Regions from separate parts of the Homo sapiens genome. Here region 2 is linked to region 1. Evidence: fine-mapped expression QTL. A gene starts in region 1. The other region holds a variant in brackets. All regions are shown on one strand. Distances are from middle to middle.

Region 1 (9,714 bases):
GCGCCGCACAGTCCTGACCCGGGCCAGACAACCCCGGTAAGCGTACAGCCCTGTATTCGGGATCGAGGCTGCGCTGGACGGCGCGGGCGGGGCTCACTCACTATTCGGGGTTCATGGCGGCGGCGGCGGCCCGCTCGGTCGCTCCCAGTCGACTCTGCTCCGCCTCCCGTTCCAAGATGGTGGCCGCTCCGCCCCAGAGGCCCCGCCCGCGACGCGCAGGCGCAAACGTCTTCTTCTCAGGCCTCGCCGCGCTGATTCCCGGAACTTGTAGTCTAAGACGTTCTCCAACTCAGCCCCGCTGCGCAGGCGTAGTCGGGGAGCCCGCGCCTCCGCGCCCACTCCCATCACTGCTGGCGCATTGCCTTCTGGGGCTTGTAGTTTGCACTCCGGACGCACTCAGGCTTGAGGACAGTGCTGGAAAGCCTGACCGCGACTCGGTGTTTAGAAAGCTCAATTTAGGGCTGGGCTTGGCACGTTTCACATCTGTCTGACGGAGGTAGTCATCCTTGCCCTCCCAATACCCACGTTGTGAACATTAAATGAGAATGTGGGTTCTAGTAAGACTAATAAAAGTACATTTGTCCAGGGTTCTTCGTGTACTGGGCAGTCCTAACTCGCAGCCGCGCGTCATCACCCGCATTTCATAGATGAAAAAACTGAGTCTCGGGAAACTCACTCAAGGTCAAAAACTTTGTGAGGAGCAGAGCTCATAAGAGCCCGCGGTCTCCAGAACCCCACAAGTGAGTGTTTTAGGGAAAGCCTGACTTGTGGGCCCCTCACGCAATTCCGGGGTGGGGCACAATATCTGGGCCCAGCTGCGCGGACAGCGGTTGAGCGAGACACACTGTCCCCCACTCACGCACGACCCTTCCCGGCTCCACCCCAGTCTAGAGACGCTGGGGGCCCCCGACCTCCGTCTCAAAACAAGCCCAGCTCAGATTTAAACCGTCTTTATTTCTACAGCAACATCTGAAAATATGAGAGCAGCCGCCTCACCCGCAACAGGGGGAGCCCCTCCTGCCACCAGGGGACCGTCGCCGCCCCTCGCGAGAAGCTGCAGGCGTGGGGGGAGGCGAGGCAGGATGGCTCGGTGGGCGGTGCCCGGGGCGGGGTCGGCCGTGCCTGGGCGGGGCCGGGTGGGAGGGGCAGTGCATAAGGCCGGGATGCGGGGCAGGGCCCGGCGGTGGGAGGACGGACTAAGGGGAGGTCCCCGTCCTGGGCCACGGGGCGATGGCGCGGGTAGGACGCATCCCTCAGAGGCCAGGAGGAGCGCGAGAAGGTCCCAGGACCCCCTTGGGAGGCGCCGCTCCCGAGAATGTAGAGCCTGGGAGATACCACCGCACGGAATGGGGGTGATTAAGGCCTGGGCGGTACCACTAGAAGAGGGACGAGGGGAGGCCCGGGTAGTACCGTGGACTGAAGGGAGGCGCGCGGCCAATAACTTATTTCTCTATATACAGAAGCAACGGCCGGGTTGAGTCGGGAGGGAGGGCGAGGGTGCCGAAGGGCCGGCGAGTGCTTAGTGTTCTTGGCTCTGGGGTCTGGGGAGGCCAGGCCACTGAGTCTATGGTGGAGACTCCAGCCGGCACCTCCTGCTGGCCCGAACCTAGGGAAGAGGGCCCTGCTGGAAGGAATAAATAAGGGATGGAGCTGGAGTGGGCAGGCCCAGCCTCCAGGGCTCAGGCTGAGATGACAAGGGAGAAGGTTACCCTGAGATTGAACAGAAAAGACAGGGGCTGTGGGAGAGACAGGCGGGACAAGCAGCAGGCCCATGCGCAGGGCTGGGGTGAGGGGGGTGTGCCAGGTGGGCGCTCTGGTGACTGGCTGCCCCTTCAGCATTAGCCCACCAGGGAGCTTCGTCGGGAGAGGTCCATGGAGCTGGAGCTGAGAGTGCGGCTGTCAGAGAGACCTGTGCCTCCAGGCTGTGGGCAGAGGGGGCAGGTGGCTCAGCCCTGTGCTGCTGCCAGTCTGTGCCTCCCTGGCCTGAAGGGGTCTGACCTGGCAGAGGCAGCCGGAATCCCTGAGCTGGGCAGAGGCAATGGCAGTTCTGACCCAAGGCCACACCCTGGTGCCCTGACACTCCCGTCCATCTCCACAGTGACGGTGTTAGCACTGGCCGTTTACACGTCCACCCCCAGGAGAGGCTGGGTTCCCCTCGTGTCTCCCCGTTGTCCAGCCCAAAGTAGGCCTGAGACAGAGCCAGGAACTGTTGCTGGATGAAGAGGCATGCTGGAGGGAAGCTTGGCAGCACGCATGCAGCCCCGGCCGCAGCTGCCCAGTGCCCAGACACCCGCCTGCCCCTACCTGGGTCGGCTCTTCCACGCTCTTGTTGAGGAAGTTGAGGGAACTGGCCCGCTTCATCCTGAGGGAAAAGGACAGCCTGGGATTTGCCCAAGGAGGAACTCACGGGAGATGGGGGCAGGGAGAAGGGTGGGGCTGGGGAGGGAACAGACTGGTGGGTGGTGGAGCCTGAGAGGGATGGGGAGGTTGCCTGGGGTCAGTGGGGCACACTCTGGGTCAGGAGCTCATCCGGGGTTGCTGGGTGGTTCTTGAGGCTCACCTTGGTGGGGGGCTCACCTGGGGTTAGGGGGCTCCTGGGGGGTGCCCCCCTGCAGCTTCTTTACCAGCATCTCACTGCTGCGCCTCAGGGCATCCCGGAGTTTCCCAAAGGAACCGCTGCGCCTCAAGGAGCCACTGCCATCCTGCAGGTGGACAGGCTTGCCTCTAGGCCCCGCTGGCCACCTAGGCTCCCAGCCCGACCCGGCCCAGGCCCCGGACTCACCCCATTCCACTCAGCTGTAGGTCCCACGTCCTCGAGGTCAGACTCAGACCGAGGCCCGGCACCCCCAGCCATGTCTCGGCTGCTGCGGCGGTCTCCCCGCCTGCCACTGCCATCTTTCAGCAGTTCTACCACCTTGGTCTGGCTTGCGGGGTCCAAACCCTGAGGGAGGGGCAGGGGCATCAGGCAGTGAATGGACCACACCCAGGGCCACACAGGTGTCTGCCCACCCCCTCCTGCATGGAGCCCCACCTGCTTGCGGTTACGGCTGGCACAGTCCTCTAGTGTGTGCGCGGCTTCCAGCTTGCCCTGGCGCCGGTATAGGGCCCCCAAGCTGCGCAGGGTGGTGTTGACTGTGGGGCTGTGGATGGGACAGTCTCAAACTCCATGTTCCCCCAGACCCAGGGCCCATCCTGGCACCCAGCCCACAGTGGGCCCTGAGGAAGCATGGACCTCCGGGGTAGCCAGAATCCATTCCTTCCCATGTCAAGCCCTGTGCTGGGCCCACCCAGCCTCTTCTGTCCTGGGGAAATCACCCCAGGGCTGGGGACCTGGCCCCAGGGCCCTCATGGGATGTTGTCACCAGGACCAAAAGCTGGGAGACCCAGAGCCAGAGAATTAGGCTGAGAATTGGGAGACAGAGCCTTCTTGGGACAGGTGACCTGTGAGTTGGGCCTTGCCAGATGAGCAGCAGAGGAGGGGTGTGTTGGGGGTGAGAGTATGGAATGTGGAGCCCGCCCTGCCGTGCCCTGCTCCCCAGCCCAGCCCCGCCCCACTCACCTGTCTACTTTACAGGCCTTGTACCAGCTGCCGTATTCCCCATAGGGGGCGCTGTCCCGGCGCTTATCCTGGAGGAAAGAATGGTCACAAGAAGTGAGAGCAGGCCCCCCTCTGCACATCCCAGCCTCCCCTGACAACCGCCCAGCCTGCCCCACAGAGCTACCTTGCTTTCCTCCCGCTCCTCTGCGTGCATCCAGATGGGCTTGTTGTCCCCTGGGGAGAGAAAGGGGACTGTCACCAGCCTACCATATAGGTCTCACCTGGTTGGGCTGGACACAGGACTGGGGTCAGGGGAGGGGAGACCACGGTTGGGCTTCGTTGAATGCATGAACAAGAGTAAGACCCAAAACACTGCTGACCCTCTTCTGGACAGAGATGAGCAGAACAGACCCTTGCACCTCAGGCCACAGCCCAAGACATGTGCTAGGCCTGAATGATGGGCCAGGCTCCGAGGGACTCAGGAGCAGATGACTGACCATCCGGGGCCAGAGGTGGTTTCCCAGAGTGGGAGACACTGGGGCAGGCCCTCAAGGTGAGCAAGAATCGCCAGTGGAGAAGGGGGATGCAAAGGCGTGTGAGGCCCTAGCAGGCCAAGGGGGCTGCGTGAGTTGGGTGTGTGCTCATGTGTGCAAACGTGAGCACAGGTGGCTGGGCACCATCTGAGGGTGAGGCTGGTGACCAGCCAGGCCAAAGCCTGAGGGCCTGCCCTGCTGAGGGATTTGTCCTGGGTGCTGATGGCAGAGTGGGCCTGGGATGGATGGGCTAGAGGCACCTGGTGACCACGCACTCACCATTGACAGAGCCAAACTCTTTCTCATGAGCGCGGGTGAGGATCTCCTTGTACAAGGTCTCCGCATCCTGGTACTTGCCCTGCTTCAGGTAGCAGGAAGCCTGGAAGCGGGAGACCCAGAGAGTGAGCGGGATGCATGCAGCCAAGCCTTTTTCTCTCCTTCTTCCCCAACCTCATCCCTGCCTCCCTCCTTCCCATCCTCCAGCTCCTCTCAGCCCCAAGGTACCAGGTTGTTCTTGGTCTTGGCCACATTGGGGTCATCGGGCCCGAGGCGTGTAGCATAGATCTCCAGTGCCCGCCGATAGTAATATTCCACCTCCTCAGCTTTGCCCTGGTTCTGGCACAGCAGGGCCAGGTTGCTGAGCTGCTTGGCCACATCTGGGTGAAACTTGCCCAGGACCTGGGATGGGAGAGGGAGCCAGGGGTTGGGCTCAGGGCTGCCCGGGCCCCTGCCTCCCAGACCCCCAGCCTGCCCAGCCCTGCCTGTTCCCACCTTCTCCCGGATCTCCAGTGCCCGCTTGCACAATGGCTCAGCCTCCTTGTACTTGCCCCTCTTGCCATACAGGACTGCCAGGTTGTTTAGTGTCGCAGCCACCTGGAGGTGGGAGAACGGAAGCTTCTTGACTCAGGCCCTGCAGGACTCTGGGACCTGCAGGGGATGGGGCACAGCCCCCACCTCCCACCCAACCCTCACTCACGGCTGGGTGGTCCTTGCCCAGTGTTTTCTCCCGGATGGCCAGAGCATCATTGAGCAGGTGGGCAGCCTCCTTGTACTTGTTCTGATCCCTGGGAGCAGGTAGGAGCATGGTCAGGGCTGTCCTCCAGCTCAAGGCCCTCCCCAATGGTCTGCAATCCCTGTGGTCACTCCTGTACTCACTGAGTGTGTATGACAGAGTGAGACCCAGAGTGTGGGGAGACCTGCTCAGCTCCTGCTCTCCAAGCTCCAAGGGCTGTAGGCAGTTTTCTCACAATTGGCTGGGGTGCGCAGTGCTGGGGTCCCACCGACTGCCTGGTGCCTAGCATTCCTGGGCGCCACATGGCTCTCCTGCTGCCCCTTTAGCGTGTCCTGCTCTCCAGGTCCCAGTGCCTTTGCTCATGCTGGCTTTTTGCCATGGGAACCTTTTCTAGCCCTCTTGTGTTTGGGCAAACTCACTTTCTGGCAAAGCCCCTCCTCCAGCCTTGGTGCCTGGAGAAGCTGTGTGGACTCCCCAGGACCCCTGGAGTCCTCATGTGCAGTCCCTCCCCAGTTCTGGCCAAGCCTCTCTCTTACACTAGACAGTTTTACTTGCATCTGTAGCCCAGCTCCACGCAGGTGGGCCACGAGTCCTGGCCCACAGCAGGCACCAAGGGTTAGTGATCCAGGGCTGGAGCCTTCCAGAAGAATTTGGGCACCCCCAGAGAGTCCTCACCGATAGACCAGTGCCAGGATGTTCAGCATGGTGGCAACGTCAGGGTGGTCGTGGCCTGACGTCTTCTCCAGGTCTTCGAGTGCCTGCTTGCAGAGTGGCACAGCTACCTCGTAGCGGCCCTGTGAGGCGTATTGGATCACCAGGTTGTGCAGGGTGCGGAGCCGGGCCGGGATCTCGTAGCCCCCATGCTGACCAGACACATCCCCTCCTCCTGGGCTAGGGGCTGCAGGGCCAAGGGCAGGAGGTCAGATGTACCATCTGCCCACTGGACTGGGATGGCACATGCCAGCTGTGCCTTTGAGCCACTTGACACATGGCCCTGGGCAAGTCACTAACCACTCTTTCTCAGTTTCCCCATTTATAGAATGGGTCTAGTTACCCCATAGAAAGAGGGGGTAGAGGCCCAGCTCCAGTACTTCAGGCTCTGTGTCCTGGGGCAAGCTGCCTAACCTCTGAGCCTGTGTCCCTGTGTACAGAGTGGAGGCCCCGATGCATAACCAGTACCATCAGCAAAGCAGGCACTGGCCCCATTGTGGCTGTCTGCATGTGCCTCCTTCAGAGGTGATTCGGAGAGGAAGAGAACTCTCCCAAGGGTCAGGGAAGCTAGTGGCAGAGCAGCACTGGAAGCCAGGCTGGTGACTCCACAGCTAATTGTGATGTCTGCTCACCACAGAGCTGGGGGGATGTGAGAAGCAGCAGCACGTACAACTGTTCTTGAAGCTCTAACACACTAGGATGTCATGATCAGAAGTGAGGCAGGAAGGAACATGGCAGCCACTCGGTCCCAAGGACCAAGAGTTCACACAACCTTTCCTTCCCCCACTCCAGAACTGCCCATCCGCACCTGGGCTCTGCTCATCCTCATTGGGGAACAGGTCATCCAGTGTGTCTTTGGGGACGTCCCCCTTCTCCTCCTGGGAAGGAAGACAGGATGAGCATCAGGGAAGGAGGCACAGGGCAGCCGGGGTGTCCATGGGCTGGGGTGGAGCCGAATCTGCTCCATGCTGCCCCTCCCTGCTCCCAGGCCTCCTTGCTGGGCAACAGTGACCATGGTAGGAGCTCACGTTAGGGGAGGCGTCTTCATCCAACTTGCGGATCTGGCTCATGAACAGCAAGTGCTGCTTCTCCTCCTCGAGCTGGGCCACGGCCTGCTCACTGCGCTGCAGCTTCTGCTGTGTCCCCGCCAGCTCCTCACGCAGCCACTGGTTCTCCTGCACCAGACGCCGCACCTGCGCCCGCAGCTTCTGCTTCTCTGATTCTACAGCCCCCAGGTGGCTCGACAATGCCAAGATCACCTGTGCAACCAGCCCAGGTAAGGGTCGGAGGCCTGTCGACCCCCTCGCCTATGACTGTAGCCTGGGCCTAGTTGGGCTCTGGCACCCAGTGAAGGGCCAGGCCTGGCCCTACAGTGAGGAGCTGCAGGTCTTTTCTCTGCTTGTCAAGGGAGAATCTCCTCAAGGCCCCCGACACACCATAATGCAAAGCCCAAACCCAGGAGGCTTGGGAGTCCCCAGTTCCTTCCTTCTAGGATCAGGAGAACCCCAAAAGGGCTAGTTGGGGTGCTGTGCTTTCCCTGAGCTACTAGCCCCTTCCTTCGTCTCTCCCTGGGTTGTACTCAAGCCTCTGCTGCCACAGCCAGTAGGTTACTGCTCCCTGCCTCAGGGCTAGCGCTTGCCCACAGAACTCTGCTAGATGGCTGAAGGACCACCCAAAGACTCCATCCCCACTTCTGCTGAGGGGCCACAGCATCCCCTGCCTTTCTGCAGCTCCCAGGTAGGGAAGGGGCATGTGTCCCAAATGCTCAGTTGGCATGAGGAGCCACAGGGGCAGGAAAAGTATCCAAAGGCCTTGGCCTCAACCCCCACCCCTCTCCCCAGCCTCTGCAACTCCTTTCCTTAGTTTCCAGTCTCTTCCTGCCTTCCTGCCTAGGGTCCAACCTCCCTTCTTGCTCTCTCTTTTTTTTTTTTTTTTTTAATTTAAGACAATGTCTCACTCTGTCACCTGGGCCGAAGGGCTATGGCACCGTCACAGCTCACTGCAGCCTCTACCTTCCAGGCTCAAGTGGTCCTTCCCCCTCAGCCTCCTGAGTAACTGGGACTACGGGTGCACACCACCACAGCTGGCTAATTTAAAAAATTTTTTGGCCAGGCACGGTGGCTCACGCCTGTAATCCTAGCACTTCAGGAGGCTGAGGCGGACAGATCACGAGGTCAGGATTTCAAGACCATCCTGGCCAACATGGTGAAACCCCATCTCTACCAAAAATACAAAAATTAGCTGGGTGTGGTGGCGCGTGCCTGTAGTCCCAGCTACTCAGGAGGCTGAGGCAGGAGAATCACTTGAACCTGAGAGGCAGAGGCTGCAGTGAGCTGAGATCGTGCCACTATACTCCAGCCTGGGCAACAGAGCAAGACTGTCTCAAAAAAAAAAAGAAAAATTATTTTTTGTAGATACAGGGTCTCATGAAGTCCGGGATTTAAGCAGTCTTCCCACCTGGGCCTCCCAAAGTGCTGGAATTACAGGCGTGAGCCACCACACCCGGCCTCCACCCTTTCCCAGTCCTTCCCGGTTCAGGATCATTTCTGCAGTTGTGTCTCCAGCTAGTCACACCTCCCACTTTGCTCCAGCTTCACACATGGCCTTGATGCCCATGCCCTCCGTGCAGATTGTTCCCCCTCTGTGAGAGTGCACGTGCTCCACCAGGTGTGCGGCCCCTGAGTGGTCCTCTCTACCTCTGACGGCCAACTGGCAGGGAGTGAATGTCCTTGCAGAGGGCCAGGCTGTCTGAGACCCTGTACTTTGTTGTTGGTTAGCAAATGCCTAAGTGACAGGTGTTTCCATAACCACTAGCTTTAAAAAAAAAAAAAAATTCCCCCAACAGCCTGGAAGTGTACACAGCAGATGGCATGATCCCTATTTTAAAGACAAGGAAACCAAAATGATACAACTTCCCCAGGGTTCACGTGCCAGGCAGGGGCTCAGCCAAGCTCTGAGGGGAATAAAACAAGTCTAACTCCTTGTACATCCCAATGGCTCCTGGACATCTCCAACTGCATATCATCCTGGCAGCCTCAATTAAAGGAGGCCAAAACAGAGTTCTGATCCACCAAGGCCCTCTCCTCCCTTAATTTGCTTAAATCACAAACTTGGGAGTGATGCTGCCTTCCTCTCTCTCTCCCTTATTCCACCCCCAGGTCTTGCTGGACCTACCTCCAGAACATCCAGAACTGGTCCCTTTTCTCCACCGTCATAGCCACCCCTTAATTCCAAGCACCAGCTCTCATTTGAATTCCAGCAGTGGCTTCCTAACCACTCATTGGAGAGTGATTCCATCCTCGACCCACTGAGGTTTATTCTCCACATCTCAGCCAGAGAGAGTTTTTAGAAACTCAAGTCAGACTGTGTTGCCTGCCTGCTTAAAGCCCTCCAGAGGCTTTCTGATTTCCTGAGAATAAAACCCAAACCAACCAGGCCATGATCTGGTTCTTGGCTTCTCCCCAGGCCTCTTCTGTCCCTGTCTCCCTTCCATGAAGCTCCAGTCACACAGTTCTTCCCTGAGTTCCTCCACCACAAGCTCTTTCCTACCCCAGGACCTTTGCACATGCAACTTCTCCCCTGCCTCCCTTTCCTGGAGGCTGGTTCATTTCTTCCCTCAGGTTTCAGTTTGTCATTTCCTCACAGAAGTCCTGCCTGACCAGTAGACAAGACTCGCTGCTGCGAGCTATCATAAAATCTTGTTCTTTTCTCTGCAGAACTCATCACAATTTGTAACAACCAATTATTTCTGTATGTGTGTTTTTGTCTCTAATAGGGCAGGAATCTTGTCTATTTTGTTGGGCCCTGTATCCACCTAACACCCTGGCTGGCCCTCAATAACTCATCTGTTAACGAGTGAATAGAAGAATTAATTGGTGGGAGGCTATGTTTCCTTAAGGATTTTCTTTCTGTTCTCATAT
Region 2 (9,179 bases), 30 kb before region 1:
CAAGATGGCTGCTGGCGTTCCAGCTATCACATATGCATCCAAGGCTGAATGCAGGCTGAAGCAGAGAGGACAAAAATGGCCTTCATCAATACTGCTTCTATTCAAGGGGCATTCTTGGAGATCCCTTCCAGCACCTTCTGTTTATATCTAATATCCTAGAATTCAGCCACACAGTCATACCATATATGCCAGGGAGGCTGGAAATGTTGCCCTTTAGCTGGGCACATTGCCTTCTGCAGCAAAACTGGGGTTCTGTTATTGGGGAAGGGAGGAGAATGGACAGTGAGTGGCCAGTGGGCAGTTGTTGGCTATGGTGTTAGAGCAGAATGGTGGAAAAAGGGTCTTTCCCATGGCAAGGAGCTGAAACCAGCATGCTGGCCTCCCTACCTGCTGGAGCCTTTTTTTTTTTTTTTTTTTTTGACAGTCTCAGGTGGAGTGCAGTGGCGCAATTTCAGCTCACTGCATCCTCTGCCTCTCGGGTTCAAGCGATTCTCCTGCCTCAGCCTCCTGAGTAGCTGTCACAGGTGCCCGCCACCACACCCAGCTAATTTTTGTATTTTTTGTAAAGACGGGGGTGGGGGGTGTCTCACCATGTTGGCCAGGCTGATCTCAAACTCCTGACCTCAAATGATCTGTCTGCCCCGGCCTCCGAAAGTGCTGGAATTACAGGCATGAGCCACTGTGCCTGGCCACCCCCTGCAGCCTTGTTGAATGTTTGGGCACCACAGGGTTTTCCACCTAATTTGCTTCTGAACGAGGAACTGATTTCACACCCAAAGAAGAGAGGCTGTGGGTTAACGCACAGGGAGAACTCTGGTCTTTCACTCCACCCTCCCGACAGAGCCAGCAGGTCGCTGGACTTTTGCTAAATATCCTAAAATGCAGCCTTGACTGTATCACGTCCCTGCCCAACCCCCTTCCATGGTTCCAGATTGCCCAGTTTGCTCCAGTTTAAGGACAAATTCTAGGGTTTGGCATGGAAGCTGCAGCAAAGCCTTCCATGGCTTCTTGCTTCTATCTCCTTGTCACACCTCAGCTCATGCCCGACAACCAGGCCTTTGTCTGGGCAGCATCGGCTGTCCAAGACATTGCTTGCCATGTCTTTGCTTAGTGAAATCCACCCATTCTCAGCACACTTCCCGGGCCACCACTAGCCCTTAAGCCACCTTTGCGTGAAAAGGAAAACGGTCCCCTTTCTCCAAGTGGATGTAGCTCCATGCCAGAGTTTGGGGAGTGGCCTGTAGGCTGGATTCCATGCACGCTTGCCCCTTAGCCCACTGCCCTTGCACAGTGAACACCCTTTACTGCTGCACATGTGACAATGCCACGTCCAGGAATCTTTCAGAGCTCCATCAGGGAGTCAGGACCTTCCTTTTCCCTGATGTTTTCTCTGCCTTTGGATTCCATGCCAGCCTGCCCTGGTTTGGGGCTGCCCTTTCCAGCTTTGTGTCTTCTGACCTGCTTCATGCCCTTTCCCTCAGATTGATAATGTCAGTAGCCGCTGGGGGGGCACCGAATTCGAGTCACAGACCATAGCTCTTTCTCCCCACTTTGGGGACCGGCCACCACTCCCTTAGCCCTCGGCATGCCCAGCAGCAGAGTGGAATGTCCCACTGAGCTGGAACAAGGGCCACCTTGACAATGCCTTAGCAGTGACCCAGGCCCAGATACCGGAGTCAGGGGAGCCAGGTGCTCAGAGCGCCTCACACTTGAGTCTCAGAGGCCCCAGGCTAGGCAGGGGAGGTTTCCTCTCCTCTGCTTACTTGGTTCCTGGGAACACTGGAGCCCAATTCTGAGTCCCTTCCCAGAACCCCTCATCGTGCCCTGAACCATGGGGGCCCATAATGCTTGCAGTGGAGGCCTTAGACCCATGACCCAGGAATGCACAGGCCTTCCATTCCATACCTTTATTTAATCTGCATCTTCTCAGCCTCCTCCCTTCCCCGCCACCCCTTAGAGGGCGTGGAAGCCCTCGTTGAAAGGGAAGGAACTCCTCTCTCCTCCCTGGGGGAGGGTCAGTGTCCCCTGGGCCAAGACTCGTTGATGGGAGAAGCAAGGGCCTGCGTGGTGGAGCAAGGACATCATCCAAGAGGCTGTGGCCAAGGCCCAGCCCCTCGGATGCCCTCTAGGCCTGGGCCCCATGGATCATCAGGAAAGTGAAGAGTAGATAAGTCCGGGAGGGCAAGGAACGGGCGTCCCTGCGTGTGTGTGGCTGATGGAGGCAGACATGGACTTTGGGAGGCAGGAGCAGAGGCCAGGGGATGTGGGGACCAGGTGAGGCCCTGAGAAGGAACCCCAGGTTGTAGGGGTAGCTGCATGTGGGGGGAGTGACTGGCCCTGAGCAGCGGGAGAGAGGGCAGGCAAGGAGGAGGGGCCTATCAGGGGAGGATGGGAATGTTGGGTGAGTAGCAGGGCCAAGGCCATGGTGCCACCACAGCCAGCTCTTCAGCCCCAGGGAAGCCAACCTGGCTGGGCATGGCCCCAAGCCTCCAATTTGTGCTTCTGCGTCACTGGGGGGGCTCCCAGCATGGCCTCAGCCCCGGTAGGGAAGTGTCCACAGGCAGCCTCTGCTGCAGGCAACAGCTGGCCGCAGGACTCCTCCTCCATCCCAGCCTTTCTGGAAGCTTCTTCTCCTGCCCTTTGTGAGAGGCCTTCAGGCCAGATCATCGGCCATCTTGGGGGATGAAGCCATGCTGGGGGCGATTCTTAGGCTTCCACTTCCTCCAAAATGACCACAGGTAACTGCATTTTAGTCTGTTTAAGGACCCCCACCCCCACCCTCACCCCTGCCCCTTGTGTGTGGCTGGTCTGTTTTCCCGCCTGTTTTGGACAACAATCACTCGGGCATCTAAGCCCATGGTGGAATGGTGGGGAGGGGGCCACTCTGGGGGCCGTGGGGGGTCTCAGAGAGCACCCTGCCCATCCCCCTGGCAGCCGCTGTCTCCGTGGACAATGAGCACCGGGAAGTAGAGGGCGTCCTCATAGCAGGGCGGGCTCTCCAGGGGTTCCGTGTCCTCTCCACGGCGCCCCAGCGGCCCCCCGCTCAGGCTGCGGAAGACCCCTGGCGTGGCCCGGCCGCCAGCGCCCAGCGAGAGGCGGCTGCGGCTGAAGGGCAGGCGGGGCCCGCTGGGCCGGGCGGGGGGCAGCGAGTTGCTGCTGACAGAGCGGCGGCAGCGCTGGCAGCCTCTGAGGTAGGCGCCCGAGCCCGCGCCCATGACCACGGCCTCCGAGTAGCTGGGCACCAGCTGCCGGTTGGAGCAGATGTGCCACTCGAGCTCAGTGAAGTCCACTGTGGCCACGCGGGACAGCGGGGGCCCGCTGGGCACGGCCCCCGGCGGGGGCGAGCTGGCGCCAAAGAGCTTCTCCACCTGGTAGTGCACGTGAGCCGTGCCATAGGCGGCCACGACGCGCAGGGGCCACGACAGCGTGGCCGCCGACACGAGCCAGAAGACCCAGGCGCGCGCGTACCAGGGCGGGCTGCGGGGGTCGGCGAAGACCATGAGCGACTCGCGGAAGTCTACGTCCTTCAGGTGCATGCCCTCGCGCGCCTCCAGATAGTCGTCCAGGCCCTCGTTGGCGCTGAAGAAGCGCGCCCGCTGCGTGAGGTACGAGGCCTCGGCCTCCGCGCTGCCGAAGCTGAAGCACTTGGTGAAGCGCAGCCGCGTGGCCGCGTGCTCCGCCAGCCCCACCAGCTCCTTGGAGACGTCGCGGACGCCGTGCGCCGAGTAGTCAAACTCGCCGCGGGCCGTGCGGCTGTCAGCGCGCTCATGGTACACCTGCGTGGTGGTGTAGGCGTCGCCGTTGCGGTAGCGCGTGATCTGGCGTGTGCGCCGCACGTAGTGATAGCTGGTGGCCTTCCACCAGACGCACGGCGGCGCCTGCTGCAGCCGGCGGATCAGCGCCAGCACCGTGTGGGCGTCGGTGCGTGGCGCCTGGCAGGACCGCACGTGACAGTGCCAGCACTCAGCCAGGTAGAGGAGGTAGAGGAGGGAGACGAAGGCCAGCGGGATGTACAGGTAGCCATCGGAGCAGGGGCTGGCCGGGTAGGTCGGTGGCGGGCCCCCGGCTCCCCGGGCCAAGGCGGCCTCGGGCCCCAGGACCAGCCGCGGCACTGTGGCCAGGCGACACCAGGCCACCACGGCCCCGCAGGCGTGGATGAGCAGCGTGAGGAGCAGGCACTTCCAGTGCGACTCGCGGCACAGGGAGCTTCCCAGGGACTGTTTCAGGGGCCGCTGCTGCAGGTGGGCAGAGAAAGGGAAGTCTGTGTCAGGTGGGGCCATCAGTGGGGCCTGCCACTTTGCTTAACCCGGCTGAGGAAGGTGATACCGTGAGCCCCATTTTACAGAGGAGGAAACTGAGGCTTAGAGGGATGAGCAGCTTGCTCCAGGCTTCACATTTCCAGCTCACTCACAGTGGCGCTGCATATTCAAACCCAGGACTCGCTGCCCCAAACCCATCCTCCACTGTGCCGTGCTAGCACTCGGCAAACCGCACACAGGAGACAGCAGGCCCACCTCAGCCAGGAGGGATGGATCCTTGCACTGGCTATTGTGGGTTCTGGTCCTGGCTCTGCCCTGATTTGCTGTGTGGACTTGGCTATATCTCTGCCCTCTCTGGGCCTTGATTCTTGGTCCTGTTGGTTTGGGAAGCCAGGGTGGAAGGGGTCTGAGGTGTAAACAGCATGGGCTTTGGAGTTCCACTGCCCAGGAGCCAGTGCTGGCTCCACTACTTACTGTATGACTTGGGCAGGTCCCTCATCCTCTCTGGACCTCAATTTCCTCATCTGTAAACTGG[T/G]TCTATTGTGAGGATTCAACAAGATCATATGTGTGAAGAAGTGAGCACAGGGTCTGGCCATGGGAATAAATATGATCACCATTACCCTGAGACTCCCTCTGGTCCCTTGTTCCATAGGGACTCAGAAGTCTCGGCAGAGGCTTTTGAGTTGATGAGAAAGAGGGAGCCTCAAGAACGGGGGAGGTGCGAGTCTTGGGGTGGGGAGCAGATGGAGGGCCATCCTCCACTCCCCATCTGTGCTGAGCAAGGGGGTGGGACACAGCTACTGGGCAGCAGGGGCCACTCCCTGGCTCAGAGGGCTTGCCACACCCTCCCTGGCAGGGCTGCCAGCCTAGCCACCTCACCCTCAGGTGCCATGGAGAGAGAAGCAGGTAGGGATAAAGTGGGGCGAGGGGAAGGGTAAAAAGGGGAGGAAAAAAGTGGAAACAACAAAAGGGGGGTTAAGGGGCCACCTCTCCTACCCCAGACCTACCAGGCCTCCAGAGGCCCAAGAGGAGAGGAACCACCCCCTAGCCCAGCCCAGATACAGCCTGTCCCCATCACCCAGCATGGGAGCACAGCGCCAGCTGACCTGCAAGGCCTGTCAGGTGCACACACACTTGTCCACGCCCCTCCAACACATGCTCATCACAGACCCACCCACCGTGGAGGGCCACACTGCCTGTCACCCAGGAAACTCCAGACCCTCGCCTGTCCCCAGGGCACAGACTCCCAGAACCGTAGCATGGTACACACACATACACACACACACGCACACACCACATACCCATCCACCACAGGACACACACGTGCACATACACGTTGCACGTGCAGTGAAGCCCAGAGACATACCAGACCTTCACCTGACCACAGTGCACATCTCCCCACCCCCCACTGCAAACTGACCCCCAGGCTCCTCAGACTCCACAGGGAGAGACCTGCCCACAAAGGGACTCACTCACATGCGCACACCTAGACCACTGGGTGACAACCCGAGCCAGGCACCCACTCGCCCCTCACCTGACTACAGGGCGCACACACCCAATTCACACACCCACACAACACACACACAGAAGCAGGCTACATTCACCCAAATGCATGCACAGCCCCACTCACCACCCTATCACCCCACACATCACTCGGGGCCCCAGGTCCTGCAGACCTTCCTGGCTAGGGCTGAGGAGGGGCCGTCGGGGGTCCCAGCCAGCAGAATGGGCCCTCAATCCTCACCTCGAGGACAAGGAGAAGGGGTACCCAGGCGCCTCCCTTCCTCTTCCCCTCCTCCCCTCTAGGCTCTGCGACTGCTGCTGCATTGCAGGCGCTGCCCGGACACCTCGTGAGCGGCTGGGCCGGGCTGGGGACCTGACCCCGCGGCCCTGGGGGTGGGGGCAGCATCCCCCGCTGCGCTGCGGCACTGGGACGCGTGGGGGCCAGGCACTGACGTCACAGGACGGGCGAGGCTGGATGAGGGGACGCCGGGGGCGGAAGTCGCCCCGCATATTGCTGTCCAGCCGCCCCACCCCTACCCCCAACGCGGGCCCCTGGACCCTTGGCAGGGCGCAGGTGACCCCAATGACGTCATTGGCCGTAGGGGCTCTGGGACTTCCCTCCTCAGCCCCTCTCTTGGGGTCGCCTTTTGCACTGGTCCCTCTCACGCCGCCCCAGGCCCGGCTCCGGCCCCCCCAGCGCCGGTACCTCTTCCCGCAGCGGCTCGCCGTCCGGGATGAGCGCGGGCACCTCCCCGCCGTCGCCAGCGCCGTCCTCGGGCATGGTGTCCTGGCTGCTTGGGCGGCCCCAGCCTGGGCACCGGGCATGATAGGGGGGAGCACGGAGGGCTGCGACGCGGCCCCCGGGGGCGTCCGCTCGGCTCAGCGGCCGCGGAGGGAGTGCGCGGAGCTCGAGCCCGAGCGCGGCGGCAGCGGCGGCGGCGGCGTTGGCGGCCCGGGTGCCAGGCGCCCCGCCCTCCGCTGACCCCGCCCCCGCGGCACCGGCGGCGCCGCCGGCAGCGCCTGGCACCGCGGGCGCTCCGCCCGTCCCCGAGAAGCCCCCGCTGGGCGGCTGGACCCCTGGGTTCTCCTCCGGCCGCGCTCGCGCTCGCGACCTTGAGCTGGTCTAACCCTCTGGCGCCTGAGCTTCCCGGGCTGTAAAACCCTCGAGGAAGGAGAATCTCCAAGGTGGGTGGGCGCTCGCGGGGTCCCATCTCTAAGGAGTAGGCCCAGAGTTAAGCCCACCCAGATCCCATCCCTGAAGCCTCACTTGGAGAAGAGGGTAGTTACAGCTGAGAAAAGCGTGACGAGTCTCACTGGCTGGGCAGGGGTGCTGGGCTCAGCTTAGGACAGGCAGGCTGGGGCCAGGACACAAGGGACCCTAGGCTGCGTGACCTTGGGCCAGCATGCTCCACTCTCAACCTCAGTTTTCCCATCTGAAAAATGGGGATAAAAGCTGGACTGAGTGGCTCATGCCTGTAATCCCAGCACTTTGGGAGACCGAGGTGGGAGGATCACTGGAGTCCAGGAATTCCAGCAGCCTTGGAAACATGGCGAAACCCTGCCTATACAAAAAATTAAAAAATGAGCTGGGCATGATGGTGTGGTGTGCACCTGTATTCCCAGCTACTTGGGAGGCTAAGACAGGAGGATCAATTGAGTCTGGGAGTAAGAGGCTGCAGTGAGCTGTGTTTGCACCACTGTTCTCCAGCTGCGTGATAAAGTGAGACCCTGCCTAGAAGGAGAAGAAGAATGAGAAGGAGAAGGAGAAGAAGAAGAAGACAGAAAGAAAGGGAGAAAAAGAAATAAAGAAAGAAAGAAGGAAAAGAAAAGACATAGAAAGGTTTTGGATTCAGTTTACAAGTATCCATTGTGCCCTGCAGTGACATGGGAACTGACTTGCATTAGATGACCCCCTCCCAGGTACACGTGGCCCCAGTGCTACCTCCTAGCCCTCCAGGGCCTCAGATCTTCACATCTGTGTCTGGGTCTGGCTTTGCTCCCAAACTAGACAATATGGGCAGAAAATGAGCTGCAATACTGGTGGGTTAATTCATTTTTGTATGTGCGTGTGTTCAGGCAAAGAGCAACTCAAAGACCATTCAATTAAACATCCTTACCCACTTAAAGATTAGGTAATTGAGATGTGGACACAGGAAAGGACTGGTCCAGGGTTTTATCTATTTATTATGAATTTCTTGGACACAGATGTTTATTGGGTGTCTTCCATATGCAAGTATTGTGCTTGGCACTGGGAAGACAAGGGTGGAAGTGGAGAATGACAACAGGGCCTGTCCTCATGGAACTTACATGCAGGGCAAATTGGGTGCACCCAGAGGGGGCCTAGAACCCAACCTATGACCTCCACCCCTGACCGGGTCAGGTCTCTGTCCCCTTTGTCCCTCTGAGAGGCACGAGATGAACTAACTCTTAAAGATAACTAGGCTTATGGACAAGTGGATATGAGGGGGAAGGGCATCCCAGGTGGAGGGGACCTCTGGGCAATGGCACTGCAATCAGACCACGTGGGCTGAGTTTGGGGAGCAGGAAGGTCATCTGGTGTAACTGGATACCTGGTAGCTAATTAGAGAGGTCGCAGAGAACCTGCTCATGCTCTCTAGAAAGCGGTGGCTGAAGGTCTGTGAGAGGGAGGCCCCTGAAGACTGTCTCCGCGGGGTTGGGAGTGATCAGAACCTGGGTGGAGAGAAAGGAACCCCCGGGACTACAAGTGAGGCTTAGGGGCCTCACTTCAAGAAGACCACAGGCCCGGCGATGACTCAGGAGTTTAGGCTGCAGCTTCAGGACGCAAATCAGCACACCTCTGCCCCCAAATCTGCTGGACTACGGGAGAGTCTATGGGACAGGCCCGGGGCAGGATCCTGCCCCACCTATACCACCCAATCTCTCAGACTTCGGATCCTCTGGGCCCCAGTTTTGCAGTATGCGTGTATGTGTGCGTGCGGCCACGCGCTCGCTAGGAGCGTGTGGTTCGAGACCCCAAATCTTCCCATACGCAGGCCCCCGGGAGTCTACAGGATGGCGGCTGAGGCGGGAGGACATTTTCAGCACCGGACGACGGACAGCACCCGCGCGGAGAAGAGGAGTGGGAGGCGGGTGGAGTCAGCATCCTGGGGCTTGCTTGGCAGCTCTGTCACTGATAGGTCCGGCCTCCCACCACCACCTCCGGGTCTGCCGGGGCTCCGTTCCAAGATTGGGTGAAGTGTAGGTGACGGGGGAGGAAAACAAGCCCAGAGAGGGAGAAACAGGCGCCCCGAAGGGCAGGGCTTGGTTGGAACTCGACCGCCCCGTTCCCTCCTGGAGTACGTCCCACCAAGGAAGCTTTGCTCCTGACTCCGGCTGCAGGTTACCTCTCGACTCCCTGGTGTAGTCGTGGCAGGGTGCGTCAAGTGCCTCACCGCG

Which allele goes with the higher level. Alleles are on the strand shown, and positions count from the first base shown. SD is a standard deviation of normalised expression in the study named.
For the expression in thyroid of the gene that starts at base 3,109 in region 1, allele T in region 2 goes with a higher level than allele G (small effect, 0.32 SD a copy in GTEx).

What was found.
Region 2: its variant is fine-mapped to the expression of KLC2-AS1 in thyroid (GTEx, PIP above 0.99). The same link has a PIP of 0.9 or more in esophagus mucosa, lung, skeletal muscle, spleen and tibial nerve.

Annotation. Positions count from the first base shown.
Region 1 is chr11:66,259,081-66,268,794 of GRCh38, reverse strand. KLC2-AS1 (KLC2 antisense RNA 1) reads left to right here and starts at 3,109. Exons shown (of 6, transcript NR_186327.1): 1 at 3,109-3,443; 2 at 3,575-3,652; 3 at 3,933-4,091; 4 at 4,915-5,104; 5 at 6,783-7,070; 6 at 8,953-9,228. KLC2 (kinesin light chain 2) reads right to left here. Exons shown (of 16, transcript NM_001318734.2): 3 at 6,823-7,053; 4 at 6,603-6,672; 5 at 5,759-5,981; 6 at 5,048-5,135; 7 at 4,843-4,944; 8 at 4,576-4,749; 9 at 4,351-4,450; 10 at 3,723-3,772; 11 at 3,560-3,627; 12 at 3,032-3,140; 13 at 2,783-2,941; 14 at 2,578-2,702; 15 at 2,305-2,362; 16 at 935-1,922. The coding sequence ends at 1,839. It overlaps RAB1B (RAB1B, member RAS oncogene family), which reads right to left and starts at 156. Exons shown (of 6, transcript NM_030981.3): 1 at 102-156. The coding sequence starts at 115. KLC2-AS2 (KLC2 antisense RNA 2) reads left to right here and starts at 384. Exons shown (of 3, transcript NR_186342.1): 1 at 384-496; 2 at 587-740; 3 at 964-1,246. RefSeq lists enhancers at 98-427, 548-597, 898-947, 1,704-2,586, 9,526-9,714 and silencers at 1,058-1,377, 1,398-1,447.
Region 2 is chr11:66,289,378-66,298,556 of GRCh38, reverse strand. TMEM151A (transmembrane protein 151A) reads right to left here and starts at 6,663. Exons shown (of 2, transcript NM_153266.4): 1 at 6,469-6,663; 2 at 1,893-4,235. The coding sequence starts at 6,543. The coding sequence ends at 2,904. RefSeq lists enhancers at 9,098-9,179, 9,105-9,179. The variant T/G (reference allele first, on the strand shown) is at 4,795.